Regions from separate parts of the Homo sapiens genome. Here region 1 is linked to region 2. The links come from fine-mapping of genetic effects on gene expression. A gene starts in region 2. The other region holds a variant in brackets. All regions are shown on one strand. Distances are from middle to middle. Region 1 overlaps SHPK (sedoheptulokinase). Region 2 holds the start of TRPV1 (transient receptor potential cation channel subfamily V member 1).

Region 1 (2,904 bases), 22 kb before region 2:
TGGCAGCTGTGCAGACAATCAGTTTTTGGTATTTGCCCATTTAAAATACAAGGTTTTCGAGGGCAGTTCTGTGACCCTTTCACAGTTTATATTTATTTTTCCTCTCTGGGCATCAGTTTCCTCCGCTGTAAAAAGAGGCCTGAGGAGTAGGATTTAATGAGCTTCTAAGTACTGTGTGCAAGTCTAAAGCGCGAGGATTCGACGTGGATGTAGACCAACTGATATTCTGAGCCAAGGAGTGGGGGCAATGTCTATTCCTGTTACACTGGGGGTCTGTCCAAGAGCTACTCCCCAATCACACCCGCCCCTAAAACTGTTTCTAACTGCTGAACACTGCCTCCTTGTCTTTACCACATCCAGCCTGCTTACTTCTTCCCGTGTCTCCCCCCACACAACTCACGCACCCACTCACCCTGGGACCATTTGAAACAGCAGCTCTGTCCTGGGATGACACACCACCCCATGGCCATGTGGAGTCTTACTGTGTTGCTGAGGCTGGTCTCAGGCTGGTCTCAAAGTTCTGGGATCAAGTGATCTCCTGCTTCAACCTTCCCAGTGGCTGCGATTATAGGCGTGAGCCGCTGCGCCCAGCTGGGAGGACTCTTTAAACTAGCTCTGTCCAGTAGAAATATGACCTGCAGGCCAGGCGCGGTGGCTCACGCCTGTAATGCCAGCACTTTGGGAGGCCGAGGCGGGCGAATCACGAGGTCAAGAGATCGAGACCATCCTGGCCAACATGGTGAAACCCCGTCTCTACTAAAAATACAAAAATTAGCCGGGTGTGGTGGCGCGCACCTATAGTCCCAGGTACTTGGGAGGCTGAGGCAGGAGACTCGCATGAACCTGGGAGGCAGACGATGCAGTGAGCTGAGATCACACCACTGCACTCCAACCTGGTGACAGTGAGATTCCGTCTCAAAAAAAAAGAAATGTAACCTACAAATGGAGCCAGGCGTGGCCTTTTCAATTTTCTAGCAGCCCTATTAAAATAAACAAGTGAAATTAATTTTAATTGCATATTTTATTTAACCCAGTGTATCCAGCACATTATCAGTTTGATGTGTGATAATCAAGGCTGGGTGCGGTGGCTCACACCTGTAATCCCAGCACTTTGGGAGGCCGAGGTGGGTGAATCCCTGAGGCCAGGAGTTTGAGACCAGCCTGGCCAAC[G/A]TGGCGAAACCCCGTCTCTACTAAAAATACAAAAATTAGCCCGGCGTGGTGGTGTGAGCCTGTAATCCCAGCTACTCCGGAGGCTAAGGCAGGAGAATCACTTGAACCTGGGAGGCAGAGGTTGCAGTGAGCCAAGATTATGCCACTGCACTCTAGCCTGAGCAATAGAGAGAGACTCTATCGCTAAAAAAAAAAAAAAAAAAAAAAAAAAAGCATTAAATTAGATAGTGTATATTTTTTGTCATACTAAATTGTAGTCCGGTGCATGTTTTACATTTACATGTCAATTCAGACTAGCCACAAGTGGCTAACGATTTCAGTATTGGACAGTGAGGGTCTAAACAAATGTCTATTCCCAGAACCCTTCTTCCTGCCCCCCACCCCCATGTCCCCACCCTGCTCTTCTTTCCTCCCTCTGGTGATCCTGCATAGCCACCTGGCTCCTCTGTGCCTCTTGTCTTCCACTTCCTCTTGGCTGTGGCCTCTCTTGCATGTAGAATCCTTGTTGAGCTCTGGGGCTGCTTCCTAGGAAAAGGCTGTGCTTCCCCTGTACTCCCTGCCCCATCCTACCCCTCCTCTCCTCCCTTCTTTCTCTTCTTTGTTCCTGCTTGTTAGGAGCCAAGAGCTGCCCCTGACCAAGGCCGCAGGCTGACAGGGGCAAGCGAGAGGTTTTCCGAGGAGGGGAAGACAGCACTCCCGGGAGGGAAGCAAGACGTCTGAGAACTCAGCCTTCAGATGCCTTTCTAAGACCTTAGCTTTGCTAGTTCCTCAAAGAGCTGACATTTATTGAGAGCTGAGCCACAATTCTCTTCCCCTTCTTCTCTTCTGAACTTTCTGTGGATTCCTCTAGTTGGTTTTTTTGAGATGGAGTCTCACTTTGTCACCCAGGCTGGAGTGCCGTGGCGTGATCTCGGCTCACCGCAACCTCCGCCTCCCAGATTCAACCGATTCTCCTGCCTCAGCCTCCTGAGTAGCTGGGATTACAGGTGCATGCCACCATACCCGGCTAATTTTTTGTATTTTTAGTAGAGACGGGGTTTCATCATGTTGTTTGGCTAGGCTGGTCTCGAACTCCTGACCTCAGGTGATCCACCCACCTTGGCCTCCCAAAGTGCTGGGATTATAGGCTTGAGCCACCAGTGCCTGGCCTTATTTCTTCTATTTATAGCACAGAGAATGCTGTTCTCAGCTGAGTCTGACCCCAGTGGAGGGCAGGCCCAGGCAGTTTGCTGCAACTCACCTGCAGCAGTGCCTCAACTGTGAAGTTAGGGAGTGGATGCTGCCCACTGCATTCCTCCTCCAGGACATCCCGGGAGGCCTGCGCCCCTCCCCCTGCCTGTGTGTCTGCCCCTGCCCATGTGTTCTCTTTTGCTTCCAGGGGCGGGAGCAGGATGTGAGTAGAATCCTCCAAGCCCTACACGAGTGCCTTGCTGCCCTTCCCCGACCCCAGCTCCGGAGCGTCGTGGGCATCGGGGTGTCGGGCCAGATGCATGGAGTCGTGTTTTGGAAAACAGGCCAAGGTATGCTGGGCTCGGGGATGCTCTCAGGCTGGTAGCAGTCACTTCCAGAACTAGAGCAGTGCTGTGCGGGGCTTTCTGTGAAGGGTCGGGTTATCCTGCAGTGGGAATAGGGTCTTGTTTCTTGGAGTGGACGAATACGTGCTGCCTCCTGCGTGGGTGAGCATTCTGTACCAATGTTAGGTGAACAAAGGAACTGCCCACTCCCACATCATCA
Region 2 (2,904 bases):
CTGAGGGGGACGCATGAGCTTACACAGATCTTCTCTGTCTCTGGCAGGCCTGGAGGTTGAAGAATCCACTGTGTATTCACGCATGATTCAGGCAGCTGTGCAGCAGAGAGATACCCACCTGACCATCACCCCGACAGTGCTGGGGGAGAGGCACCTGCCGGACCAGCTGGCCTCAGTGACCAGAATCTCCTCCTCCGACCTCTCCCTGGGGCACGTGACCCGGGCTCTGTGCCGAGGCATTGTTCAGAACCTGCACTCCATGCTTCCGATTCAGCAGCTCCAGGAGTGGGGCGTGGAGAGGGTGATGGGCAGTGGGAGTGCGCTGTCCAGGAATGACGTGCTGAAGCAGGAGGTGCAGAGGGCTTTCCCTTTGCCCATGTCCTTTGGGCAGGATGTGGATGCAGCTGTCGGGGCAGCTCTGGTCATGCTCCGGAGACACCTCAACCAGAAGGAATCTTAGACAGCAAACTCTTTCGCCAAACGACTGCTGTGAATTTTACCTGATTAACATTCCTGACACCATCTGTGGGTCATCCTTTCCCTGGACCGTTCAGTGGACAGCTTTCAAGCAGTGCTTGTTGTGAGGTCCCATCTCGGCCAAGAACTTACCTTCAGAACATACTCTAATAATGCAGCCAGGAGCCGTCAGCCAGATCCCAAATGAGTGCCTTCCGAAATTGACCCACCTGGGAGCTATTTACAAATGTCCATGTGGGAGAGAGAGAGCATGAGAGCACAGTAGCCCAGCCTGCTGGTCAGCAGGCTCATCTGTGGTTCACCTGTAGACAGAGAGCAGATCAATGTGTACTTCAGACACCAGAAAGTCTGGTGGCTTTGGTCCCAAGTGGGAAAAGAGAACTGCCCCATGCCCAGCTTGTGATTATCGTTTTTGGAGACCTGAAGCCCACACTCGGGTCGTATGGACTTCTGGAAAAGTTCTTGTCTCCTGGACTGAACCATGTGACCGGAGGCCCCTTTCCTAGTCTCATCCTCCCCTGGCTGCAGATGCTTAGCTGGGCCAGGGATTGACCCAAGCGCGATGCAGCAGGCAGGCTCAGAAGACGATGCGGGGCTGTGTGCCGGCCTTCTTGCTGCATGTACTCAGCCTCAGGAGAGCTTGCTGCACCCAGGCCGCCCAGGTCTTCACAGCACAACTGCCTGGAAGGCAGGTTGCGAGAAGGAGAGGCGGATGGCATGAGCAGCAAGGGGGACCGATGCTGTGCAGCTCACACCACTCCAGAACCTGACAAGGCACCAGCAGGACCCCTTGCCAGGAGCATGTCTGTGCAGCAGTGTTTTTGCCCCTGCACATTCCAGAAGCCCTCATGGGAAGGGATGCAGCCAGGCAGACTCCTGCCAGATGGGGCAGGTAGTTTATTCAAAGAGAACTCTGTATCCCATAGGCCCAGGCTCTCCTTTCGCTTGGCGTGGGCTTTGCTGGCCCAGTGTGTGCTCCTGGCTCAGCAGAAACATCCATTTGAGTTGGCATCCCTGTAGGGATCCCAGAGCGTTGTAAGCCTTCTTGTGATTGGTAGGGATGGCTGTGGGGTGGCTTCCAGGAGGGGGCCACCATTGCCGCATCTACTTCTAGACTCCCAAAGGAGCCCAGGCTCAGGCAGGCCTGGCCCAGAGTCACGCTGGCAACCACGAGTTTGGGAAGCAGTCGTATTCTCTCTCTCTCTCTCTCTCTCTCTCTCAGTATCCATGACAGGTATGAAACATATTGTCTCTTTATAAATGTCATTTTACAAATTATGTGATTATCTGGAAGCTCTAAGATGAGAGCAAATGCCTGATCACTCTGGCCAAATGTCAGATACTAAAGCCCATTCTTGGCCGGGCATGTTGGCTCCCGCCTGTAATCCCAGCACTTTGGGAAGCCCAAGTGGGTGAATCACCTGAGGTCAGGAGTTCAAGACCAGCCTGACCAACATGGGGATACCCCGTCTCTACTAAAAATACAAGCCGGGCGTGGTGGCGCATGCCTGTAATCCCAGCTACTCAGGAGGCTGAGGCAGGAAAATCACTTGAACTCGGGAGGCAGAGGTTGCAGTGAGCTGAGATCGCGCCATTGCACTCCAGCCTGGGTGACAGAGCAAGACTCTGTCTCATAAATAAATACAAAGCCCATTCTTCCAGAGTCTTGTGCCTTAAATAAAACACACCTCTCTGCTGTGGGAAGACTGTGCAATGGCACAGCCGCAGAGCTTGGTTTGGGAGGTTGAAGTGCTCTGGGGAGAATTCGTAGATCATCCTCAGAAAAGCCTTGCCCTGGTGTTCTACCAGAAAAACGTCTCCCAATCACCCAGGAAAGCTGTCCACAGTAGTCCCCCCTTATCCACGGTGTCACTTTCCATGGGTTCAGTTATCTGCGGTCAACCACGGTCTGACAATATTAAATGGAAAATTCTTCAAACAGTTCCCAAGTTTTCCCTTGTGCATTGTTCTGAGCAGTGTGATGGAGAGTCTCTGCCGTGCCATCTGGGATGCAAACCGTCCCTGTGTTCCCCACGTCCAGGCCGTAGATGCTCCCCGCCGGTCAGTCACTTAGTCGTCAGATCGCCCGTCCTGGTATCACAGTGCTTCTGTTCAGGTCAGTCTTTTTTTACTTCATTAGGGCCCCAAAGCACCAGAGTAGTGATGCTGGTAGTGATGCTGGCTGTTCGGATATGCCAAAGAGAAACCGTAAGGTGCTTCCTTTAAGTGAAAAGATGGGAAGAAAACAGTCATATGCTGAATCTTCTATCTGTGAAATTCTAAAGAAAAAGAAATTCGTGCTAGTTTTTTTTGCCTTTTTTTTTTTTTTTTTGAGACATAGTCTCACTGTGTCACCCAGGCTGGAGTACAGTGGTGCAATCTTGGCTCACTGCAACCTCTGCCTCCCGGGTTCAAGCGATTCTCTTG

The links. PIP is the estimated chance that this variant, and not a neighbour inherited with it, causes the effect.
Region 1: its variant is fine-mapped to the expression of TRPV1 in whole blood (TOPMed, PIP 0.91).

Annotation. Positions count from the first base shown.
Region 1 is chr17:3,629,991-3,632,894 of GRCh38, reverse strand. SHPK (sedoheptulokinase) reads left to right here. Exons shown (of 7, transcript NM_013276.4): 2 at 2,549-2,690. Among named protein-coding and RNA genes, the nearest start is that of SHPK, 4.8 kb to the left of the region's middle. The variant G/A (reference allele first, on the strand shown) is at 1,171.
Region 2 is chr17:3,608,116-3,611,019 of GRCh38, reverse strand. It overlaps TRPV1 (transient receptor potential cation channel subfamily V member 1), which reads left to right and starts at 1,609. Exons shown (of 17, transcript NM_080704.4): 1 at 1,609-1,711; 2 at 2,455-2,593. It overlaps SHPK (sedoheptulokinase), which reads left to right. Exons shown (of 7, transcript NM_013276.4): 7 at 48-2,780. The coding sequence ends at 460. RefSeq lists an enhancer at 1,218-1,719.